7 linked regions of the Homo sapiens genome follow. The protein of the gene in region 4 purifies or fractionates together with the protein of the main gene of each other region. This does not show direct contact. Each region holds a gene or a part of one and is shown on either strand. Other genes may lie near its edges.

Evidence for each region.
Region 1: the proteins of CDC25C (region 4) and MAST3 purify together in Homo sapiens (affinity purification with mass spectrometry, with the first as the bait; one large-scale study listed by BioGRID). This does not show direct contact.
Region 2: the proteins of CDC25C (region 4) and PPP2R5D purify together in Homo sapiens (co-immunoprecipitation; 2 studies listed by IntAct). This does not show direct contact.
Region 3: the proteins of CDC25C (region 4) and KIF1C purify together in Homo sapiens (affinity purification with mass spectrometry, with the first as the bait; one large-scale study listed by BioGRID). This does not show direct contact.
Region 5: the proteins of CDC25C (region 4) and USP17L2 purify together in Homo sapiens (affinity purification with western blotting; one study listed by BioGRID). This does not show direct contact.
Region 6: the proteins of CDC25C (region 4) and SIPA1L1 purify together in Homo sapiens (affinity purification with mass spectrometry, with the first as the bait; one large-scale study listed by BioGRID). This does not show direct contact.
Region 7: the proteins of CDC25C (region 4) and NUP188 purify together in Homo sapiens (affinity purification with mass spectrometry, with the first as the bait; one large-scale study listed by BioGRID). This does not show direct contact.

What each region holds. Positions count from the first base shown.
Region 1 is NC_000019.10:18,146,278-18,149,777, forward strand, and holds part of MAST3 (microtubule-associated serine/threonine-protein kinase 3), read left to right. Parts: intron 1-603; coding exon 604-767; intron 768-1,165; coding exon 1,166-1,347; intron 1,348-2,913; coding exon 2,914-3,449; 3' UTR 3,450-3,500.
Region 2 is NC_000006.12:43,005,070-43,008,569, forward strand, and holds part of PPP2R5D (serine/threonine-protein phosphatase 2A 56 kDa regulatory subunit delta isoform), read left to right. Parts: intron 1-1,376; exon of another isoform or gene 1,377-1,393; coding exon 1,394-1,610; intron 1,611-1,841; coding exon 1,842-2,041; intron 2,042-2,126; coding exon 2,127-2,237; intron 2,238-2,344; coding exon 2,345-2,437; intron 2,438-2,865; coding exon 2,866-2,996; intron 2,997-3,131; coding exon 3,132-3,191; intron 3,192-3,297; coding exon 3,298-3,406; intron 3,407-3,500. UniProt on the Homo sapiens protein: The B regulatory subunit might modulate substrate selectivity and catalytic activity, and might also direct the localization of the catalytic enzyme to a particular subcellular compartment.
Region 3 is NC_000017.11:5,007,950-5,011,449, reverse strand, and holds part of KIF1C (kinesin-like protein KIF1C), read right to left. Parts: intron 1-3,500. UniProt on the Homo sapiens protein: Motor required for the retrograde transport of Golgi vesicles to the endoplasmic reticulum. Has a microtubule plus end-directed motility.
Region 4 is NC_000005.10:138,318,305-138,321,804, forward strand, and holds part of CDC25C (M-phase inducer phosphatase 3), read right to left. Parts: intron 1,071-3,500; coding exon 915-1,070; intron 1-914. UniProt on the Homo sapiens protein: Functions as a dosage-dependent inducer in mitotic control. Tyrosine protein phosphatase required for progression of the cell cycle. When phosphorylated, highly effective in activating G2 cells into prophase.
Region 5 is NC_000008.11:12,136,050-12,140,209, forward strand, and holds USP17L2 (ubiquitin carboxyl-terminal hydrolase 17), read right to left. Parts: upstream 2,801-4,160; 5' UTR 2,712-2,800; coding exon 1,119-2,711; 3' UTR 386-1,118; downstream 1-385. UniProt on the Homo sapiens protein: Deubiquitinating enzyme that removes conjugated ubiquitin from specific proteins to regulate different cellular processes.
Region 6 is NC_000014.9:71,739,093-71,741,709, forward strand, and holds the end of SIPA1L1 (signal-induced proliferation-associated 1-like protein 1), read left to right. Parts: coding exon 1-69; 3' UTR 70-2,117; downstream 2,118-2,617.
Region 7 is NC_000009.12:128,950,699-128,954,198, reverse strand, and holds part of NUP188 (nucleoporin NUP188), read right to left. Parts: intron 1,427-3,500; coding exon 1,353-1,426; intron 1-1,352. UniProt on the Homo sapiens protein: Component of the nuclear pore complex (NPC), a complex required for the trafficking across the nuclear envelope. Required for proper protein transport into the nucleus.

The sequences.
Region 1 (3,500 bases), on a different chromosome or scaffold from region 4:
AAAAATTAAAAAATAAAATTAGCTAGGCATGGTGGCATGCGCCTATAGTCCTAGGTACTTAGGAGTCTGAGGTGAGAGGATCGCTTGGGCCGAGGAGGTTGAGGCCATAGTGAGCTGTGATCGTGCCATACTGCACTCCAGCCTGGGACACAGAGTGAGACCCTCCCTGGTTCTAAAAAAATAGAGGGCTCTCATGTGGGCAGCTGCATGGGTGGTTCATTGAATAGCTGGACACTGGGTAGGTGTCTTTGGCCTAATGACTCATGGGCCATTAGGTGAGTGATTGGGGGATGGGGAGATGTTGGGGTGATTAATGGGTGGATACCAGATAGGTGGGTGACAGACCCCGGGAGGGTGGAGAGTGAAGAGGGCAGGCCTCGATCGGCGTTGACCGCAGAGGGAAGGATCTTAGCAGGAGGGGTGGTGCTCCCTGGGCTATTGTTTGACCGGATATATTGGGTAGGTCACTGGTTGTGTGGATGAATGGATGCTGGGGTGGTGGGTCCCAGCTGGTGCCCGGAGTGAAGGGGACATAGCAGCTGCCTGGCAAGTGCTGGGCCCTGTGAGAGGCACAGAGGCAACCCCTCACCATCCCTCCCGCAGAGCGGCAACAAGATATCCCTGCGGACCACAGCCCTGGAGAACACCTCCATCAAGGTGGGCCCCGCCCGGAAGAATGTGGCCAAGGGCCGCATGGCACGCAGGAGCAAGAGGAGCCGTCGGCGGGAGACCCAGGATCGGTGCGCGGCAGTGACCACCAGGGAGCGGTACACAGGGGGCGGGGCCACGGGGACTGGGGTTCTTTTTTTCTTTTCTTTTTCCTTTTTTTTTTTTTTTTTTTTTTGAGACAGAGTCTTGCTCTGTTGCCCAGGCTGGAGTGCAGTGGCTCAATCTCGGCTCACTGCAACCTCCACCTCCCGGGTTCAAGCGACTGTCCTGCCTCAGCCCCCTAAGTAACTGGGACTACGGCGTGCACCATCATGCCCAGCTAATTTTTATATTTTCAGTAGAGACAGGGTTTCGCCATGTTGGCCAGGCTGGTCTCGAACTCCTGACCTTAAATGATCCATCTGCCTCGGCCTCTGAAAGTGCTGGGATTACAGGTGTGAGCCACCATGCCTGGCCAGGAGCAGGGGTTCTGAAGCCTCCGGTTTTCTTACCCCAGGCGGAAGTCACTTTTCAAGAAGATCTCCAAGCAGACCTCCGTGCTGCACACCAGCCGCAGCTTCTCCTCCGGACTCCACCACTCACTGTCATCCAGTGAGAGCCTCCCCGGCTCGCCCACCCACAGCCTCTCCCCCAGCCCCACCACTCCCTGCCGAAGCCCAGCCCCTGATGTCCCAGCAGGTGGGTGCACCCCGACCCCCCACCACCCCGGCTACCCTGGGAGCAAGGGCTGGTGGGCCCCAGGAGGGAGGAAGGAGTTCAGGGGATGGAATGACACGATGTAGGGAAAAAGATGACCGGGATCCTGGTGTCTAGCAGGGAACCTGGGAGTACTTAGAGACGAATGCAGGTGCCAGGGAAGGATGCACCCAGCAGAGGAAACATCATGGACAAATGGGGCTAGACAGGAGGGTGGGAAAACTGAGAAGAGGCCAGGCACGGAGGCTCACGCCTGTAATCCCAACACTTTGGGAGCCCGAGGCAGGAGGATCACTGAGCCCAGGAGTTTGAGACCAGCCTGGGCAACACAGGGAGACCCCATCTGTACAAAACATAAAAAAATTAGGTGGGTGTGAGGCCGGGCATGGAGGCTCACACCTGTAATCCCAGCACTTTGGGAGGCCGAGGCAGGTGGATCACCTGAGGTCGGGAGTTCAAGACCAGCCTGGCCAACATGGAGAAACCCCGTCTGTACTAAAAATACAAAATCAGCCAGGTGTGGTGGCACATGCCTGTAGTCCCAGCTACTAGGGAGGCTGAGGCAGGAGAATCGCTTGAACCCAGGAGGTGGAGGTTGCGGTGAGCCGAGATTGAGCCATTGCACTCCAGCCTGGGCAACAAGAGCAAAACTCCATCTCAAAAAAAAAAATTAGGTGGTTGTGGTGGTGCACACATGTGGTCCCAGCTACTCTGGAGGCTGAGATGGGAGGCTCACTTGAGCCCAGGAGGTCAAGGCTGCAGTGAGCCATGATTGCACCACTGCACTCCAGCCTAGGCAACAGAGTGAGACCCCATCTCAAAAAACAAAAGGGAAAAAAAAAAAGAAAACAGAAGTGATACAGAGAAGGCTTTCTGGAGGAGGGGGAGTAGGAGCTGGGGCTTTGATGGGTGAGTGGGAGTTCACCAGAGCTAGGCCAAGGAAACAACCCTGAGCAGGAGGCAGAAAAGTCTGGCATGAACCAGGCATGATGGCTCATGCCTGTAATCCCAGCACTTTGGGAGGCCAAAGCAGGCGGATCACTTGAGGTCAGGAGTTTGAGACCAGCCTGGCCAACATGGTGAAACCCCAACTCTACTAAAAATACAAAAATTAGCCAGATGTGGTGGCACATGCCTGTAGTCCCAGTTACTTAGGGGGCCGAGGCACGAGAATCATTTCAACCTGGGAGGTGAAGGTTGCAGTGAGCCAAGATCATGCCACTGCACTCCAGCCTGGGTGACAGAGCGAGACTCTATTGAAAAAAAAAAAATTAGCCAGCCATGGTGACGTGCACCTGTTGTCCCAGCTACTCAGGAGGCTGAGTTGTGAGGATCACTTCAGCCCAGGAGGTTGAGGCTATGATTGAGCCAGTGCACTACAGTCTGGGCAACAGAGCAAGACCCTGTCTCAAAAACAAAAACAACCAGGCATGATGGGTGGCCACATGGAAGGATGTGGGCTTTAGCAGTTTTTGTCAGTCCCACAGCTCCACTTCTGGGCTGGGGACATTGAGGCCAGCAGCCCTGACCTACGCTTATCACCCACAGATACCACTGCATCCCCACCCAGCGCATCCCCGAGCTCCAGCAGCCCCGCCTCCCCAGCTGCTGCTGGCCACACCCGCCCCAGCTCCCTGCACGGCCTGGCTGCCAAGCTTGGGCCACCCCGCCCCAAGACTGGCCGCCGCAAGTCCACCAGCAGCATCCCGCCCTCCCCGCTGGCCTGCCCGCCCATCTCCGCGCCCCCACCCCGCTCGCCCTCGCCCCTGCCCGGGCACCCGCCCGCACCTGCCCGATCCCCGCGGCTGCGCCGGGGCCAGTCAGCTGACAAGCTGGGCACAGGGGAGCGGCTGGATGGGGAGGCGGGGCGGCGCACTCGTGGGCCAGAGGCCGAGCTCGTGGTCATGCGGCGGCTGCACCTGTCCGAGCGCCGAGACTCCTTCAAGAAGCAGGAGGCCGTGCAGGAGGTTAGCTTCGATGAGCCGCAGGAGGAGGCCACTGGGCTGCCCACCTCAGTGCCACAGATCGCCGTGGAGGGCGAGGAAGCCGTGCCAGTAGCTCTCGGGCCCACCGGAAGAGACTGATCCCCTGCCAGGTCTCTCCCTGGCATCAAAGTTACGCGTTTTCTTGTGCAA
Region 2 (3,500 bases), on a different chromosome or scaffold from region 4:
ATTAACTCCTGATATTCCATTTATTCATTTTCTGTTATAAATGAGGTTGTTAAAAGTATTTGTGCACAAAGCTTTTTTTTTTTTTTTTCTTTTTGCCTGGCTACCTCTGTCTCCTCCAAAGCTTTTTTTTTTTAATTTAGGATTTTTATTAAGCTAAATTTCTAGTAAAGTCCTAAGACATGGGAATGAATTTCTTTCTTTTACCTTTTTAAATTTGAAAATTTTTATCTTTAGAGACAGTGTTGTTTTGTTGTTCAGGCTGGAGTGCAGTTGGTGTGATCATAGCTCATGGGAGACTTGAACTCCTGGGCGCAAGGGATCCTCCAACCTTGAGTAGCTGGAACTCCAGTAAGCTTCCTGAGTAGCTGGAACTGCAGGCATGTGCCACCACACCTGGCTAATTAAAAAAAATTTTTTGTAGAGATGGGGTCTTGCTACGTTGTTCAGGCTGGTTTCAAACTTCTGGCTTCAAGTAATCCTCCTGCTTTGGCTTCCCAAAGTGTTGGGATTACAGGCTTTGGCCACTGTGCCTGGCCTTTCTTTTACCTTTTGTTTTGTTTTTTTTTTTTGAGACAAAGTCTCGCTCTTGTCCCCCAGGCTGGAGTGCAATGGCATGATCTCGGCTCACTGCAACCTCCGCCTCCTGGGTTCAAGCGATTCTCCTGCCTCAGCCTCCCAAGTAGCTGGGATTACAGGCGCCTGCCACCACGCCTGGCTAATGTTTGTATTTTTAGTAGAGATGGGGTTTCACCATGTTGGCCTGGCTGGTCTTGAACTCTTGACCTCAGGTGATCTGCCCTCCTCGGCCTCCCAAAGTGCTGGGATTACAAGTGTGAGCCACTGCGCCCGGCCTCTTCTACCTTTTGATTGGAGACTGTCATACATTCAGTAAAGGATCTTAAGTGTACTGCTCAATAAATTTTAGGTATGTATCTGCCATGCACCACCTTGCAGGTCCAGTCAAGATACAGGATGTTTACATTACTCAGAAGGCTCCTCATGTCTCTTCTTATTCCTCATGTGTCTTCTTATTCATCATGTGTCTTCTTAGCAATACCCACCCCATTTCCCCTGGCAACGTAATCACTTTTTTGACTTCTGTCACCATCAATCTATCAATTAGCTTTACCTGTTCATGAACTGGAATGAACGTTTTAAAGGCTCTTGATGCACAAGCAGTGGGCATCTCTTTGGGTGATGTGACTTCTTGACTGCTCCCTGCCAGGGCTACAGCACAGTTATCTCTGTAACCCTGGCCTTAGCTCCTTCGGGGCAGGAGACAGCTGCTCACTGCCCAGGCCTGTGCAGGCATAAACAGACTTGGGGATGGCCAGGCCCAGGGTGGGAGGCATATCTTGGGAAGTGGATTTCAACAGGTGACTTGTTTGACCAGGCCCAGCCGCAGCCCCAGCCCCAGCCCCAGCCCCAAGCCCAGTCTCAGCCACCGTCATCCAACAAGCGTCCCAGCAATAGCACGCCGCCCCCCACGCAGCTCAGCAAAATCAAGTACTCAGGGGGGCCCCAGATTGTCAAGAAGGAGCGACGGCAAAGCTCCTCCCGCTTCAACCTCAGCAAGAATCGGGAGCTGCAGAAGCTTCCTGCCCTGAAAGGTACTTGGCAATTGGTCACAGGGGCTGTTTTACCAGTTCTAGTGGGCATCGGGAGTTGGTGGAATGGAAGTTTTGGGGTATTTTGCGGGGAAGGGAGTTCCAGAGAATGCGGGAAGGGGGTGCCAGGGAGCAGGATGGTGGCAGGGTGGGGTAAGGGAAAGCCCTTGAAGGCAAGCAGGGCATCGCAGTGAAGGACTACAGAGGAGAACCTGACTGCTGGGGCCCCCACAGATTCGCCAACCCAGGAGCGGGAGGAGCTGTTTATCCAGAAGCTACGCCAGTGCTGTGTCCTCTTTGACTTCGTGTCAGACCCACTCAGTGACCTCAAATTCAAGGAGGTGAAGCGGGCAGGACTCAACGAGATGGTGGAGTACATCACCCATAGCCGTGATGTTGTCACTGAGGCCATTTACCCTGAGGCTGTCACCATGGTGGGCACAGGGAAAGGACACAGGGGGGACTGGTGAGGGGCTCTGGAGAAGCCCAGGTGGAGCTCTAACTGGCCCTACCCCTCAGTTTTCAGTGAACCTCTTCCGGACGCTGCCACCTTCATCGAATCCCACAGGGGCTGAGTTTGACCCAGAGGAAGATGAGCCCACCCTGGAAGCTGCTTGGCCACATCTCCAGGTACCAGGGCAAGGGGGCAGATTGGCCGTGGCTGCAGGGAGTGGGGCACTTGGAGGCCTGCAAGTCCTTGGGAACATCCCCTCAGTGGCGTGCCTTTTCCCCTATAGCTCGTGTATGAGTTCTTCTTACGTTTCCTTGAGTCTCCTGATTTCCAGCCAAACATAGCCAAGAAGTACATCGACCAGAAGTTTGTACTTGCTGTGAGTCCCCGAGTTCCTGTCCTTGCCCTCTCTTTCCATTCCATGCCCCCTTCATCTGTGTCCCAGTGGCTCTTTCCCCTTAAGCTGAATATATTGGGTTTCATCCATGTCTGGTACGAGGAGGCTATAAAGGGTAAAAAACAAAACAAAACAAAACCCTACTCTGGCCTTAAGAAACTAACAACATAATGGTAGGAAACAAAAAAGCAACAGAGTACCTCTCTCAGGTCAATAGTGAGGCATCACTTTGGAAGTCTCAGTACAAATACAATAGAATCAGCAATATAATAGAATCACTGCTTTCTAAGACTTGCTGGCCCCCACTCCAGGGGACCTCTGCATTTCCCCTGGCGGGACCTATGTCACCCTGGCCACTGCCTTCCCTGGCTGCTGCCTCACTGGCTGCTTTCCCTCCCTTGTACCCCCAGCTCCTAGACCTATTTGACAGTGAGGATCCTCGAGAGCGGGACTTCCTCAAGACCATTTTGCATCGCATCTATGGCAAGTTTTTGGGGCTCCGGGCTTATATCCGTAGGCAGATCAACCACATCTTCTACAGGTGAGGCCAGGAGCCCAGGCTTAGGAGCAAAACCTTCTGCTACTGAGGTGGGGTGGGAGCAGGGAGGTGGGGGGACTGTACAGAATGCTGGAGGGACATCAGGGGTTGTCAAGAGAGCCATTTTTCTTCCCTCAGGTTCATCTACGAGACGGAGCATCACAACGGGATTGCTGAGCTCCTGGAGATCCTGGGCAGGTGAGAGGCCGGGTGGGGGCACAGATGCCTGAAAAAGGTTGGCAGGATTGGTGTACTGAACTTGGATCTGACCCTCTGGTCCTAACAAATGTCCCTTAATTCCTAGCATCATCAATGGCTTTGCCCTGCCCCTTAAAGAAGAGCACAAGATGTTCCTCATCCGTGTCCTACTTCCCCTTCACAAGGTCAAGTCCCTGAGTGTCTACCACCCTCAGGTGAGCTGCCTTCCTCCTTATAATGTCCAACTCAGGCAGCAGAGAAAAGAGCCGGCAGGAAAGTGTTCCAGCTGGGATAGGGGAAGCATAGGGA
Region 3 (3,500 bases), on a different chromosome or scaffold from region 4:
CAAGAAGCTGCTCAGGCCCAGGCTGGGGGTGAGAGCCCCAGGGTCTGGTCCTGTCCCTATCCTCAGCCCCTGAGAAGGCAGCTCAGAACCAGGTTTGAACACCACTGATTTAAGCAATCCTTAGCCCTGGTGGTGGGGGTCTTAGCAAGAGGAGGCTCCCTCCAAGACAAACTGTAGTTTTTTCCTCTAAGACCCAACTATTCCCTGTTGGAGCTACTCACACCAAACCCATTTCCCCATGAGTCTAACAGTTCTCTCTTCTGGCTTTAGACCACATGGCTTTTAAACATGAGAAGAGTTCATCCTCACCACCTTGAGAAAAATGTAAAAGTGAACTACCTTAAGACACCTTCTCACCAATCACACAGGCAAAGAGAAAAGTCTTACTAAGCCAGAATGTGGGAAAGGGCGAGGGGAAATGGGCTCTCTTGTATGTTACCCTTGGGAGTATAAATTGGTATGGTTCAAAAAATTAGCCAGGAGTGGTGGTGGGCGCCTGTAGTCCCAGCTACTTGGGAGGCTGAGGCAGGAGAATGGCGTGAACCCGGGAGGCGGAGCTTGCAGTGGGCCGAGATTGCACCACTGCACTCCAGCCTGGGCAACACAGCAAGACTCCATCTCAAAAAAGTAAAATAAATTGGTATGGTTATAATCTTCAGAGGGCACTTTGGCAATATAGATTAAAAAAAAAATTTTTTTTTTTGAGACGGAGTCTCGCTCTGTCACCTGGGCTGGAGTGCAGTGGCATGATCTCGGCTCACTGCAAGCTCCGCCTCCCGGGTTCACGCCATTCTCCTGCCTCAGCCTCCCAAGTAGCTGGGACTACAGGTGCCCGCCACCACGCCCGGCTAATTTTTTCTATTTTAGTAGAGATGGGGTTTCACCTTGTTAGCCAGGATGGTCTCGATCTCCTGACCTCGTGATCCGCCCGCCTCGGCCTCCCAAAGTGCTGGGATTACAGGCGTGAGCCACCGCACCCGGCCTAGATTAAAATTTTACATGGCTACCATTTGACCCAAAATCTCCATTTCTAGGAATCTGCTCTACAGATAACACCCATTTGTAAGACTATGCATTGTAGCCTTTTTTTGTAGTATCAAGGAATGGGAAACAATCTGAATGTCCATCAGTGGGAAGCTGGTTAAATACATTATCCTACATCTACACAATAGAATACCCTGACACCGTGAAAAAAATAAAGGAAGCTTTAAAATAAGGTATGCAGGCCAAGCACAGTAGCTCACACCTGTAATACCAGCACTTCAGGAGGCCAAGGCCAGTGCATCATTTGAGGCCAGGAGTTTGAGACCAGCCTGGCCAACATGGCGAAACCCTGTCTCTACTAAAATACAAAAATTAGCCCGGCGTGGTGGTGGGTGCCTGTAATCCCAGCTACTTGGGAGGCTGAGGCATGAGAATCACTTGAACCTGGGAGGCAGAGTTTGCACTGAGCTGAGATTGTGCCACTGCACTCCAGCCTGGGCGACAGAGTGTGACTCTTGTCTCAAAATAAATAAATAAAATAGATATGCAACTACAACTATTAGAGAGGCCGTGAATGTGAGTAAATGTGTATAGTTCTATATAACATATGCCTGTACATGTGTTATAACATCTCCTAGACAGCATCTCTAGGAGAACATTTTTTCTTTTTTTTTTTTTTGAGACAGAGTCTTGTCTGTCACCCAGGCTGGAGTGCAGTGGTGCGATCTCAGCTCACTGCAACCTCTGCCTCCCGGGTTCATGTCATTCTACTGCCTCAGCCTCCCTAGTAGCTGGGACTACAGGCGCCCGCCAGCACACGTGGCTAATTTTTTGTATTTGTAGTAGAGACGGGGTTTCACTGTGTTAGCCAGGATGGTCTCAATCTCCTGACCTCGTGATCCACCCGCCTTGGCCTCCCAAAGTGCTAGGATTACAGGTGTGAGCCACCAGGCCCGACCCAAGGAGAATATAGTAAGAACCCATAATGGGCCTGGCACGGTGGCTCACACCTGTAACCCCAGCACTTTGGGACTCCGAAGTGGGTGGATCACGAGGTCAGAAGTTCAAGACCACTCCGGCCAACATAGTGAACCCCATCTCTACTAAAAATACAAAATATTAGCCGGGTGTGATGGTGTGCGCCTGTAATCCCAGCTACTTGGGAGGCTGAGGCAGAAGAATCGTATGAACCCAGGAGGCGGAGGTTGCAGTCAGCCAAGATTGCACCGTTGCACTCCAGCCCGGGTGACAGTACAAGACCCCGTCTCAAAAAAAAAAAGAACTCATAATGAAGGCTGCCTCTGAGGGGAAACTTAAGGGTGGGAAGGATGGAGAGTTACTTTTTTTTTTTTTCTATAACAAAATGCTGTAAATTGGAGACTTTTCACTGTACACACCTTTTAGAACTATTAGAATGTTCTCTCTGGTGTGTATTACCTTTATAAGAACAATTAAAACAAGAACCCCCTCCTTTGGTCCCCAGGCTTTGGCAGGTGGCATCTCTGCAAGCTCTCCAAGGAAGAAACCTCCACCCCACCAGTCTCCCCAGTCCTTTCTGCTTTTCCTCCATCCTTGCAACCGTGGTGGAAGCGGCCCAGCTCCAGGTATACAAAGGTGGCTGGAAGCCATGCTGAGCGCATCCGTAGCCCCTCTTTCCACCTAGGTGTGGCTGGGTCCCAGAAGAGTCTGGATCCCTCAGAAGGACCCCAAAGCCCCAGGGTACCCAGCCCCAGACAAGACCCCAGACACGCAGCCTGGCCTACCGCCCACAGCTCTTTCACTCCCTCAATGTGGCTTGGGCCAGGCAAGGCAAAACCCCTCTCCTCTTTTCAGAACAGGGGTTCAGTGATCCCTGCTTGCTTAGTCCCCCAGATGGACCTGACTTTACAAAACAGAGAGGAGCCTTCTTCTGGTAACCCATCACCTCTTCCAGGCAGCCCCCAGTGACACTGTCTGGCTCAGAGCACAGTGTATCTGACTTAGGGCCTGATCCTCTGCTGCTTCACACCATGGTCCAGACGGGCTGGGCTGGTTCCCTGGTGGAACTGGAAGTTCATGCTCTGCTCAAACTGGCCTCTGCACCATCCCTTCACTGGTATACTGGCCTCTGCACCATCCCTTCACTGGTATGCACCGGTACAGCGGTGCTGGCTGTCTATATCCAGTGTCCTTTCTGACTGGTCAGTCCCTATGCCGGATGGTTATTAATATTTGGAGTATCATTCCTGCCTCCACCTGAGCCTGACCTCTCCCGCCCTGCTCCTTCCTTCCTTTCAGCAAAGATTTATTAGGTACCTAAAACCTGGCGGCAGGCACGTGTCAGGCACTGGCGTGTCCCACTCACCCCAACATGTACCCCAGGCTCTTCAACCTCATGTTGGCCCTACTCCTCCATACTTCCCAAGTCCTGTCCATCTTTCAGGTTCCACTTTCCAAACCACCTTCTCCAGGAAACCAGTTGCAGCATAGCTCCAAGCTACACGGGTGCCTCCATCTATAACCAACCCCTCGCTGCA
Region 4 (3,500 bases):
TCCATCTCAAAAATAAATAAATAAATAAAGATAGGTTATCACATCTTGTTGATCTCTGTAGCTCTAGCATTTAGTAGAGTGACTCATACATATCAGGCATAAAATGTTTATTCAAGAATGAATTGTTGGCTGGGCATGGTGGCTCACGCTTGCAATCCCAGCACTTTGGAAGCCTGAGGTGGGTAGATCACCTGAGGCCAGGAGTTTAAGACCAGCCTGGCCAACATGGTGAAACCCTGTCTCTACTAAAAATACTAAAAATTACCCGGGTGTGGTGGTGCACACCTGTAATCCCAGCTACTCGAGAGGCTGAGGCAGGAGAATCGCTTGAACCTGGGAAGAGGAGGTCGCAGTGAGCCAAGATGGCGCCACTGCACTCCAGCCTAGGCGACAGAGCGAGAATCTGTCTTAAAAAAAACAAACAACAAAAAAAAGAAGAATGAATTCTTAATTAAACTAAATTTGGCCTGGGGATGCCTCTGTACTTGAGTCTTTATATACCAAGTTGCAACCTAACTTAGTACTTAAACTAACTGAAAGCCTAATTTAGAAGTATACTTTTGTATCAAAAAGCTGAGTCTCAGGAAAGCACAGCAGCTGAGCTTCAGTCAACCACAAGCAATCAACTGTTTAAACCATGTTCAAATAAGGCAAACTCAAGGCTGCAACCAACTGGGCTGTCTCTGTACCTCACTTCTATTTTCTGTACTTCATTTCCATTTTCTGTCCATAATACTGCCTGACCACATGGCAAACTGGAGTTTTACTGAACATGTTCTGGCTATGAGGGTTGCTGGATTCACTAGTTATTTTTTTGCTCAAATAAACTCTCCTAAGTTTAATTTGTCTAGTTCTTCTTTTAACAGAATGAAGGAATATGAAGAATACAAAGATACTACCACAGAACACTTTACCTTTGCTTCTTGATCTTTCAGGGAAAACTCCATTAATTCATCTGAAATCTCTTCTGCCTGGTCTTCTCCTAGGTTTGGATTTTTATCCAATTTTGGAACAGTAGTAATGGGACTGCCCAAATATTTCATTTCACTGTCCACCAAGTTTCCATTGTCCTGTCAAGTATATTGACAACATTAAAAACTATTCAAAATATATCAAAGTTCTAAATGTAAGAGCTAAAACTATAAAACTCTTAGAAGAAAAGATAAGGGAAAAAATTCATGACACTGGATTTGGATAATGCCACCAAAAGCACAGGTAACGAAAGAAAAAAACAGATAAATTGGTCTTCATCAAAATGGAAAACTTTTGTGCATCAAAGAACACCATTAAGGGAATGAAAAGGCAACCCACAAAATGGGAGAAAACATTTGCAAGTCTTATATTTGATGAGAGATTAATATCAGAATATATAAGGAACTCCTACAACTCAGTAACAACAACAATAACAATCAAAAGGGACATGAATAGACATTTCTCCAAAGAAGATATACAAATGGCCCATAAGCACATCAAAAGATGCTCAACAAAGTAATCATTATGGAAATGCATATGAAAATTGCAAGAGATACTTCTTTATACCCATTAGGATAGCCATTATAAGAAATAACAAGTGTTTGTGCATTGCTGGTGGGAATGTAAAAGGGTGCAGAGGCATTCTATGGATAATAGCATGGCAGTTCCTCAAAAAATTAAATGTAGAATTATCATGTAATCAAGCAATTCTACTTCTGAATATATACCCAAAAGAATTAAAAGCAGGGGCCGGGCGCAGTAGCTCACGCCTGTAATCCCAGTACTTCGGGAGGCCGAGGCCAGCAGATCACGAGGTCAGGAGTTCGAGAGCAGCCTGGCCAACATGTTGAAACCCCATCTCTACTAAAAATACAAAAATTAGCCGGGCATGGTAGCATGTGCCTGTAATCCCAGCTACTTGGGAGGCTGAGGCAGGAGAACTGCTTGAACCAGGGAGGTGGAAGTTGCAGTGAGCTGTGATCGTTCCACTGCACTCCAGCCTGGGTGACAGGGCAAAGACTCCATCTTGGAAAAAAAAAATACACAAAATAAAATAAAAGCAAGGACTCAAGCAGATTTTGTACACCTATGTTCATAACGGCATTACTCACAATGGCCAAAAGGTTGGAAACAACTCAAAATGTCCATCAACAGATGAATGGATAAACAAAATATGATATATACATACAAAAGAAATGAAATTCTAATACATGCTATGACATAGATGAACTTTGAAGACATTACGCTAAATGAAAATATAGGCTGGACGCAGTGGCTCACACCTGTAACCCCAGCACTATGGGAGGCTGAAGCAGATGGATCTCTTGAACCCAGGAGTTTGAGACCAGCCTGGGCAACATGGCAAAACCCTGATTCTACAAAATATACAAAAAAATTAGGTTGAGGTGGGCAGATCACATGAGGCCAGGAGTTTAAGACCAGCCTGGCCAACATGGTGAAACTCCGTCTCTACTAAAAATACAAAAAAATTCACCAGGCATGGTAGCACACGTCTGTAATCCCAGCTACTAGGGAGGTTAAGGCATAAGAATCACCTGAACCTGGGAGATAAAGGTTGCAGTGAGTCAAGATTGCACCACTGCACTCCAGCCTGGGTGACAGAGTGAGACTCTGTCTCAAAAAAAAAAAAAAAAAAAAAAAAAAAAAAGTAGCCAGGCATAGTGGCACACACTTGCAGTCCCACCTACTTGGTAGGCTGAGGTGGGAGAATAATCAGAGCCCGGGAGTTTGAGGCTGCAGTGAGTTATGATTGTGCCACTGTACTCCAGCAGAGGTGACAGAGTGAGACCTCACACACACACATGAAAGGACAAAATATAATATTATTCTACTCATATGAGGTATCTAGAATAGTCAAATTCACTGACACAGAAAATAGAGGTTATCATTGGCTGGGCAGAAACAGGGATGGGGAGTTATCACTTAAGGGTATACAGCTTCTGTTTTGAATAATGAAAAAATTCTGGAAATGAGTTCTGGTGATAGTCTCACATTATTAATATACTTACTGTCACTAGACTGCACACTCACAAATAGTTAAAATTGTAAATATTATGTACATTTTACTGCAATTAAAAAAAATCACATATAAGACTATCCAATAATTGAACATACTCCAGGTCTTCCCTCCATCCTAGAAACCAAAAACCTAAATAAAACATGATCAACTTAGTGGCCAGGCGCGGTGGCTCATGCCTGTAATCCCAGCACTTTGGGAGGCCGAGGCAGGTGGATCACGAGGTCAGGAGATCGAGAGCATCCTGGCCAACATGGTGAAACCCCGTCTCTACTAAAATACAAAAAATTAGCTGGGTGTGGTGGTGCACGCCTATAGTCCCAGCTACTGGGGAGGCTGAGGCAGTGGAATTGCTTGAACCCAGGAGGCAGAGGTTGCAGTGAGCTGAGATCGCACCACTGCACTCCAGCCTGGTGACAGAGCAAGACTCTGTCTCAAAAAAAAAAAAAAAAAAAAAAAAAAAAAAAACCATGATCAACTTTATCTTCAT
Region 5 (4,160 bases), on a different chromosome or scaffold from region 4:
ACACGGAGACCCTGTTCGTATGCACATTTGGGTGCTTGAGCAGGGTTGCGCCCAAGATTCTGTGGTTCTACGGAGCCCTGAGTGGTGCCCTGGGCAGCTTTCCTCTGGGGTTGGTCAACTTTGATCACTGCACCTAACGAGAAAGGGACCATGAAATCTAATCAGCAAATACAGACAAGCAAGGGGCCATTTCCCACAATCATTTCCACGGAAACACCACGTCGGATACGTAAGTCTGATTGCAGGACAGGGACTGTGCTTCAGAGATGCAGCTTTCGCAGCTGGACGAATGACCCGGAATCTCCCCAAATGCCATTTGTAAGCACACCAAATGAGGTTTATTTCAGGGCTTTCTGAATTTATTTCAGTTGAATACACACACTCCTGTGTTTGATTTCCTTTATTATCAATACGACTTATTTCCAAATGACTGACATGCCAGTGGGAAAATTTTCCATTTCGACTCATTGGAATTGGACATCGTGAAACAGGCAAGTCGGTCTGTCTGTTTCCGGCGTTATGTGGGTTCCAGCAAGAGCACAAGTCCCAGGGCGCCTGAGGTCCATTCAGAAACCAATGTAAAAACGGTGAGCCAGGGTAAGAAAGAAGAGCACCGTTCCTATCTTCTAAATGCATTCCAGTTTCCACTATTCAAGGTGGCGAGAATGATCCATGGATGTGCCACATGAGCAAAATTTCACCTTCTCGTGCCGCCCAACAACTGACGAATGAAACACACCCCAAGAGAAAATAGGAAACCGAGTCCCCTGCAATAACCTCACACTCAAACCTACACGTCAGTAGGTCATATTCAGAAATACACAGTGAATGTCATCTACCATGAACACAAACACACAGACAGTCTCTCCAGAGGTTCGGAAGACTCACGACCCCAAAACTTGATGTTTCCCATGTGTGGGCTCATCCTGAGATGCAGCCATCACTATCCAGTTGTCCCTGTTGTAGAGACAGAAACTTGGACTCCTCATTACTTTATGTAGGATTGACGGTGTTCGTGTTTGTGTGTGTGTGTGTGTTTGCGTGCGCGCTTGTGGGTGTATTTGTGCGTGTGTGTGTGTGCGTTCACCCCTACGTGTGGGTCGGCACTTCCACTGAGATCACTGGCACACAAGCAGAGCCCTCTTGCTGTGTTTGTTCTTCCCTTTGGATCTCCTGGTCCTCCCTTGCAGAGAAGCGAGGGTGCCAGTGTTCACGGACTCCTGATCTGTCCGGGTCGTCGAAGAGAGGTTTAGCAGGGAGCTTTGCTGTTCAGGATGATGGTTTTTCATCCCACACTTGTATTTCGATTGATGAATCACAAGTACGTTGGGAGGCAGGGTACCTTCGACTTTTCTGACGTTGAACTCAGGCTTCGTTTTGTTTTGCTCTTGGGGGAATTTCCAGTGGTCTAAGGTGCTTTCCTGAGTGGCTCTTTCCACCAAGCGCTCGTCCAACTCGGGTGCCTGGAGGCAGGGGTGGTCTCTCTTGAGCTCTCCTTGCGTTGCTCGCCTGTCTGTGTCTTCAGCGCCGAGGGCTCTTGGTTCCCTGCCTCTTGACACACTCTCACTGTGTCTTTCCCATTCACTCTTCTGGATGTAAAAGAGGACATAGGCCTGTTGACTCAGGACAGAAGTGATGCTACAGGCAGTGACCTTGGCATCATCCATTTTATACCACTGGCCTTCTTGAGCTTTGACATAAGAGAAGTAATGTCCGTCGTGACAACTCCACCCAGCGTGGACCAGCACAGCATAGAGGACATAGACAAGAGGTCCTGTGTTCTGCTGAGACATGTATGGCTGCATGTCAAGGCACTCAGGATATTGCACATTCTTGGCAAGTTTGTTGCCTGTGACATCGGAGAATCTCTTCAAGACAAGGATGAGGACCTTGGCAGAAGTGTGTAAAGTTAACGTCTTGGAGGCCGGCGCCCTCTGGAGACAAAGACCGCAATGATAGGCATTCTCTCCATTGAGTTCTTCGGGCTTCACCAACTGTTCCAAAGCTTGCTTGACACTCTGAGCTGCCTGGATATCCAGGGCGATGTCCAGGTAAGGGTCAAAAGTGTCTGAAATCCCGTGGCAGTGGAGACACTTGATTTGAGATCTCCAGCAGCCTCCAAATATTTGGTGGATGAGGGTGGTGTCCTTAGAGTGATGATCTACCTGCTTGTGGCCGGGAAGGCATGCCTTTTTCATGGCATCCACAGTGAACATGAGAAATTCATGGGCATCTTCCTGCTTGCCTCTATGGAAGCCAGCAGCCAATGCCTGTGAGGGCTGGATGACATGACCAGGACTGTGGAGGGCCCATGTGATGTGAGCTTGCATAGTACAGAGCATGCAGCACTTGGGACGCTGACATGTTTGAGAGTGCTCCCGGGACAGCATGTAGTTGGCAAGGGGCGGTGTGTATGTCAGGCACTGCAGGGAAGCGTTCTCGTAGCAGGTATTTCCCATATTCTGGAGCCCAGCCCCCACCGCAGCAGGTCTCCTGCTACTCAGAGGAAGCTTCTTCCTGGGAGCAAGCTGTCTTGCCACAGGAGCCAAATCATCACAGAGGTCGACACGGGCCTCAGATGAGAGTGGTGACTTCTCAGGGAGAGAAGTCCGCTGGATTTCAGCAAAAGCTGCATCTGGCCGAGAAGATGTGAGTTTTGAAAAGTGGTTGAACTGCCACTCACCTCCCAAGTAGAGTGAGTCGTCCTCCATGTCGCCCGCAACAAGGATCACAAGGTTTTTCTGCTGGGACTGCAGGTTGCAGCAAGACGCTATCTCTTCCAAGAGAGTCTTCAAATGACGAGCTCTCTGGCCGCATCAGCCCTTATATAACTCACCCCCACCAACCGCGAACACCCCACCCACCCATCAGGTGTGCGATAAACCAATCAAATATCAGCACTCAATTAAGGAATGAGTCACAGGGTGTGTCCCCTTGCATCGCTGGGAATTCAACAGACACAGCCCACATCATGACTTCTAGAACACCTGAATCAAATTACTCCTCAGGGTGATAGGCACATATAATATGAGTGTAACCGGGTTGGGACAGTGGCCACACAGTTGCCTTATTTTAGGTAAAAGAATGTCAGGGAAGAAATCTTTACCTATGAAACCGTGTGTGTATCTCTCTGTGTGTGTGTGTGTGTGTGTGTGTTTGTGTGTGTGTGTGTGTGCTTGTGCTGGGATGAACTTCCAAGTATGTACTTTTGGCAGCTACCGTCATCCTCTCATCGACGGAAGGACAAGAAGTCTGAAGTGCGCTTTCTGACCTGAGAATAGTCAATGAAGTATAGTATTTAGCACAGCGTATTTTCTTCCTTAATAATAAAGGAGATATCCGTGGCATCAAACAGACCTTCCAGGGATAACCTTTCCACGTTCAGCCTATTGACTCTCTATCCGAGTGAAATTACTGGCCAGTGGAGAACAAGACAAGTCTTTGCATGAAATGCTCTTGTGGAAGCTAGGCTGCCAAATAATAAAGCATCAAATGGTAGAAACATGCACTGAAGTTTGAAGAGTTACTCAGTGCACAAAGTAGGCTGTGAAAGACTTTGGGGAAATCATGCAATCACCGAGAGACTAATTGATGACATTCCCCAAATTTATGTGTGCCAGAAAAGAGAGATGGTCCTGACATTGTATAGTGAGTGGTTTCGGACGTGCGGCGGCAGTTTAAGAAAACTTGAAACAAAAAACTTGAGAAATCCAAAGGTATCCCAACTATAAGCTTTTGTTTATTAAAGAACTGATGAAAATAAAAACAACGTATCTCACAGCATGGGTGATACTATTTCCATACTTACGTGATAATGGATCAACATTTCATAGAGATGAAATAAAAAGTTCTAATTTTGACAAAAGCAAACAAGGAAAATTATACCGTAGAAAAGCCCGGGTGACGGGAGTGAGGCCCTGTCTGAAGAAGAAAACATCGGAGACGTTTAAAAGCAGTGAGTGAAACAGAGGGTAGCATAACCTTTTTAATACTGGCTCTTGTTTCACTGGGAAATGGCAAAAATAAACCGTGTATCTCCTGGATTCTCGCATCGGTTGTTCATGCTCTGAGATGTTCCCTCCATTTCCAGTTATGCATTGTATGGTGGAATTGCAGTTAGCACCTTTGATGCAAAAATTGTAATGCTGACGAAAGTGGAC
Region 6 (2,617 bases), on a different chromosome or scaffold from region 4:
TCCCAGAACGCCTCGGACAAGCTGAAGAAGTTCACAGAATGGGTCTTCAACACCATAGACATGAGCTAGGGAAGGCTGAGGAGGACAGGAGAAGGGCCCAGACACTCCCTCCAGTGAGTGTCCTGCAGCCCTTATTCCCTCCATAGAAAGCATCCTCAGAGCACCTTCCCTGGCTTCCTACTCTGCCCCCTTTCGGGGAGTGCACAACACAATAGTTGCAGATCAACAATCATCACCTGCCTTTTGTAGAAAAGAAAAACAAAAAAAGTAAATAAAAATTTTAAACAGTAAAATAAAAGTTTAACTGCTAAAATGTGAATGTCTTTATTTTTTTGCACAATATCTTTATCTGTTATGTATTTAAGAAGAAACTGGGCCTTGGACCAGGGCGCCCCCTGGCCCATCCGCCTCTATTCCCATCAGCTTTCTTATCAACTTCAGGTAACCCAAGCTTTCCCTTGTTATTCTAACAAATATCATTATTCCTAGAAAAAGAATGTTTTTATAACTTGTTTGGGGAGTAGAGAGGGATATTTCCTTACCTTCTTCCCTAAAATGCCTGGAGAGGGAGTTGCTTTGAGAAAATGCCTACCTCCCTTGAATGACTCGTGCATGAGCTAGTGCTGTCTGTACCTGTCCTCCAGAGATCAGCAGGACCGGAGTTAAATATTTAACAGCAAGTCTGTAAACCAGAGCAGCTCTGACAGTGCCTGCAGGCCACACCCCTTCTCAGTCCTGCATTGTGAGGTCATTTCCTGCTTCTCCCTTTCCCCAGGAAGATGGTCCCACTTGTGCTGCAAGACTCTTTTTTGTTTGGCTTAATTGAGCCCCACTAAATTGGAATCAATCTCTCTTACAGCTTCCTGGCTCCAAACATTAATTGATTTCAGAATTCCCCCAAACTAAAACCTTATCTGTCTGCATTTTGAATGCATTTTGGTCAAAAGTATACGTTTTAAAGATTTTTAAAGATAAAAATGTGGCACAACTGGTTTTTTTAGCTTGCTGAAAATGACCATATCTCTAAATTAATCTTTCTCTCCAGAGCAAGACTTCACCAGTATTTGTAACTAGGAGAAGCTAACAGTGAATGTTTAATTGTGAATTTTAATCATTGCTTGTTAGGAATAATGACTGTGATACTAGAATGGGCTTTTGAAACCTGCATGTCCCAGTGTGAAATTTCAGCACGGCATTTTCTGCATCCTTTCATGGCCATCCAAAGGATTCCGCTGCAGAAATTATTGATGTGCTATTTTTGCTGTCTTGTGATGCAGGCTGCTTTGGGCCCCTGGGTCACTCTTCCAAGGCTGCTGTAGAGCACAGAGACATGGGGCTGGCCAGTGTTGACTGACCTGAGGAGACCCCTTTGTTTGTTGCCTTCATAACTGTCACTAAACCGACCCCTCTGCCCTTTCAGTGGCAACTCTGGTCTAAGGGAACATTCAGCACTCTAGCGGCATCTGATTGGAAGTTCCCTCACCCAAGTAATCTCAATTCCTTCCTCTCTCCATCCCTGAAAGAAACAGGATGGATTTTCCTCTCTTCTCCCTGCTACATTCACTACCAGATTTTTATGCTACAGTTTCATTCTTGATTGTGATTTCTCCATGGAATTTTTTTTTTCTGGTGACATTTCTATCATGGAAATAGGAAGATTTCGGAGTGCTTTGTGAAGATTTCAATTGTCTGTCTCTTTCTCTCTTTGACTTGTATGAAGGAGATTGTACATTGCCTGATATCTCTTTGTAAATGAGAAATATTGCTAACATCCAAGCATTCTGAAGTCTTGCTTATCCTTCTGAGTTTAGTTCTCATTTTGTTTTACATTTTGTTTGGGGACTTGGGGCAAGCTATTTATTAGAGTTTTGCAACAGAGTTCTTGTTTGAAGCCTCTAAAGACTACCTGTAAAATTCAAAGAATAAAATTCATTTTAAACGCTCTTTTAAAACACTTTGGTATTATTGCTTGAGGTTTGCTTATTTGAAAGACCACCCAATAACTCATTGACCCTCCTTGCATCCGAATTTTTTCATCAAGCTTTGTTAACACTAATGATGATTCTTGAAAATTTCTGTCCTTCTCAGAATGTTAATAAACTTTTTTACTCTGTCCACATGTCGATAGAGAATTACTATTTTGCCTTCTCTGCTTATGATTTAATATTTGCAGAGCACTTCATAATTAGCTTCCCCTTCATTATCCACGCATGGATTTTTCATAACATTGTTATTCTCTGAGACCAGCACATTTTTGGGCTGCATCTCCCAGCTCTCAATGTCAGATGTTGTGTGCCCAGGGAATACAAATGCCTGTTAATATTAGGCTGTGCAAAATATAATTAGAAAAGTTAATCTACTGAAAAAAAAATCAGTGCATTCCAAAGTCAAACCGAACCAATTTTTTTTTAATCTACCACGTCACTGTTCCTCTCCAGCGGCGCAGCTAATTGAGTGCTGACAGTAGAGTTTCTTCCTTTTATTTGGTTCAACAGTTCTACAGATTCCAGAGTTCTTGGACTAGCATAAGAATGGATGCCACAAAATATTCCAATTAACAAGCTAAAAAGGTCTGTTTAGACCATGATTCCTACATGGTTCGGAGGGCTTATACGTT
Region 7 (3,500 bases), on a different chromosome or scaffold from region 4:
AGGAGACTACAGGCACTTGACAACTAGGTTGGATCCTGGAACAGAAAAAAGATAGTAAAGAAAACAATAGGCTGGGTATGACGGCTCACGCCTGTAATCTCAGCACTTTGGGAGGCCGAGGTGAGCAGATCACTTGAGATCAGGAGTTCAAGGCCAGCCTGGCCAACATGGTGAAACCCCATCTCTACTAAAAATACAAAAATTAGCTGGGCGTGGTGGCGGGCACCTGTAATCCCAGCCACTCGGGAGGCCAAGGCAAGCGAATCACTTGAACCCGGGAGGTGGAGGTTGCAGTAAGCTGAGATGTGACACTGCACTCCAGTCTGGGCGACAGAGCAAAACCCCATCTCAAAAAAAAAAAAAGAACAGACACTGGAATGAGACCACCAGGGTCAAATCCTGGTTCTATCACTTAGTAGCTGTGTGACCATGACAAGTTGCTTAACCTCTTTGTGCCTCAGTTTCCCCACTGGTAAAATGGAAACAATGATAAGGGTACCTAAATGTGATAATATAGAGATTATCTTTTTAAAAAGTCCATGTATTTTAGATACATAGTCAAGTATTTGCAGATAAAATAACAAGGTATCTGGGATTTACTTTAAGGTAATTACAGGGGAAGAATTAACAGACAGATGAATAACAAGGAAAAGTTCATCGTTAACCTAAGAGAATGAAAATGGAAGGTAAAGATGTAATACATTCAAAAGCAGTACAAAAGTAGAAGGGAAATGAGGGTGACTTAGACTATAACGCATAATAGAATGAGATCTGGACTAGGAATCAAGATCAAATAAGCCCAGCCCTACAAGCTGCATTCTCTTTATTTGCAACTACTTTATATTTTATTACTATGTTTTCCACTACCCAATAAAAAGATCTATATATTCACCCAAAGAATAAAAGTAGTAACTATCTCAAAGGGGTGTTGTGGGGATTAAATAACTTTTGATAAGTCAGGTGCTTAGAGTATTAATTGTTACATAGTTAACACTACACAAGTGTCAGTTGTTAGCATCATCCTTCACTGCTATCTCCCACCAATTAGTACTCACACAGACACTGTGGACTCTGAATAAATATTAGAAAATTCGTTGAATGTTTAATAAATTCTCATCCCCACACATAGGTCATAATTATATTCTACAATACTGTATTTCTAGAAGGAATTTCCTTTTCTTTCGGTCAACAAAAAAACAAATGTACCCTACTGTTTTCCACTGGTAAACTAAATTGTATTATCTCTGGTATACATAACCCTACAATATCATCAAAGCACATAGAAGGATGGTTTTATCCATGTCAGCTTCCTTAGGACAATTACTTTAACCAGACACCCGGAACTGCCATACCTGGGAGGTTTGTAGTAAGAAAGCCCCTCTAACAATCGCCGCCAATGTTTATTCAGTTCTGCCTCAATCTGACTCTGGAAAAGAACAAGGTAATTATACAAATGCAGTATTTTTTTTTTTTTTTGAGACAGAGTCTCACTCTATCACCCAGGCTGGAGTGCAGTGGCACCAACTTGGCTGACTGCAACCTCCGCCTCCCAGGTTCAAGTGATTCTCGAGCCTCAGCCTCCCGAGTAGCTGGAATTACAGGTGCCAGCCACCACACCCAGCTAATTATTGTATTTTTAGTAGAGATGGAGTTTCACCATGTTGGCTAGGCTGATCTCGAACTCCCCACCTCAAGTGATCTGCCTGCCTTGGCCTCCCAAAGTGCTGGGATTACAGGCGTGAGCCAAGGCACCCGACCGCAAATGCAGTTTTTTGTGCTTTCTTTTTTTTTTTTTTTTTTGAGACGGAGTCTCACTCTGTTACCCAGGATGGAGTGCAGTGGCGCAATCTTGGCTCACTGCAACCTCCGCCTCCTGGGTTCAAGCAATTCTCCTACCTCAGCCTCCTGAGCAGATGGGACTACAGGCGCACGCCACCATGCCAGTCAGTTTTTTTTGTATTTTTAGTAGAGATGGGGTTTCACCATATTGTCCAAGCTGGTCTTGAACTCCTGAACTCGTGATCTGCCCATGTCAGCAAAGTGCAGGGATTACAGGTGTGAGCCACTGCGCCCGGCCCAAATGCAGTTTTATTAATAATCAGACTCGGCCAGGCATGGTGGCTCAGGCCTGTAATCCTAGCACTTTGGGAGGCCGAAGCGGGCGGATCCCCTAGGGTTGGGAGTTGGAGACCAGCCTGACCAACATGGAGAAACCCTGTCTCTACTAAAAAATACAAAATTAGCTGGGCGTGGTGGTGTATGCCTGTAATCCCAGCTACTCGGGAGGCTGAGGCAGGAGAATCACTTGAACCTGGGAGGCAGAGGTTGTGGTGAGCCGAGATTGCACCAATGCACTCTAGCCAGGACAACAAGCACGAAACTCCGTCTCAAAAAAAAAAAAAAAAAATCAGATTCCAGAATCACACTAAGTATTACACATTCCTTTGAGTGTTTTTAATATGCATTTTTCCCCAGAGTTGAAATCATTTTGAATACAGAATTCTGTAACCTTCTTTTCTTTGCTTAACATTATAACATAATGACTTAACCTTATTATGAAAGTCTTGATAAACATACTTTCAAGTTGCTGCATAATACTTGTATCAAGTTGGTAGATCATAATTCATTTACCATTCCTCTAATGTTTGATATACTTAAGCTGACTGTAATTATTTAATAATATAAATGATGTTGTGGTGAAGTTTTCTTTGTTGTTTTTTGAGACAGGGTCCTGTTCTGTCACCCAGGCTGGAGTGCAGTGATGCAATCATGGCTCACTGCAGGCTTGATATCCTGAGCTTAAGCGATCTTTCCACCACAGCCTCCTGAGTAGCTGGAACTACTAATACAAGCATATGCCACCAAGCCTGACTTTTTTTTTTTTTTTTTTTTGAGATGGAGTCTCGCTTTGTCACCCAGGCTGGAGTACAGTTGCGCGATCTCGACTCACTGCAACCTCCACTTCCGGGTTCAAGCGAATCTCCTGCCTCAGCCTCCCGAGTAGCTGGGATTACAGGCATGCACCACCACACCGGGCTAATTTTGTATTTTTAGTAGAGACGGGGTTTCTCCATGTTGAGGCTGGTCACGAACTCCTGACCTCAGGTGATCCGCCCGCCTCGGCCTCCCAAAGTGCTGGGATTACAGGCGTGAGCCACCATGCCTGGCCAAGAATCTTTCTTAGGTTGAGGTAGAAGAATGGTATTTGCACCCCTACTCTCAGCAGCCAAGCAATGAACACAGGTATCTTTTCATAAAAGGAATCAATGAAATACAAAGGTAGATTTAAAAGACTTCAGCAGCTAGGCTAGGTAGTCTCATTTCAGCAAAGAAGTAGGGAATGCGTAATGTTTATAAAGCTTTTTGCTTTTTTGAGCTGGGGTCTCGATGTGTCTCCCAGGCTAGAGTTCACTGCAGCCTCAACCTCCCAGGATCAAGCAATCCTCCCACCTTGGACTCCTAAGTAGCTGGGACTACAGACATGCACCACCATGCCTGGC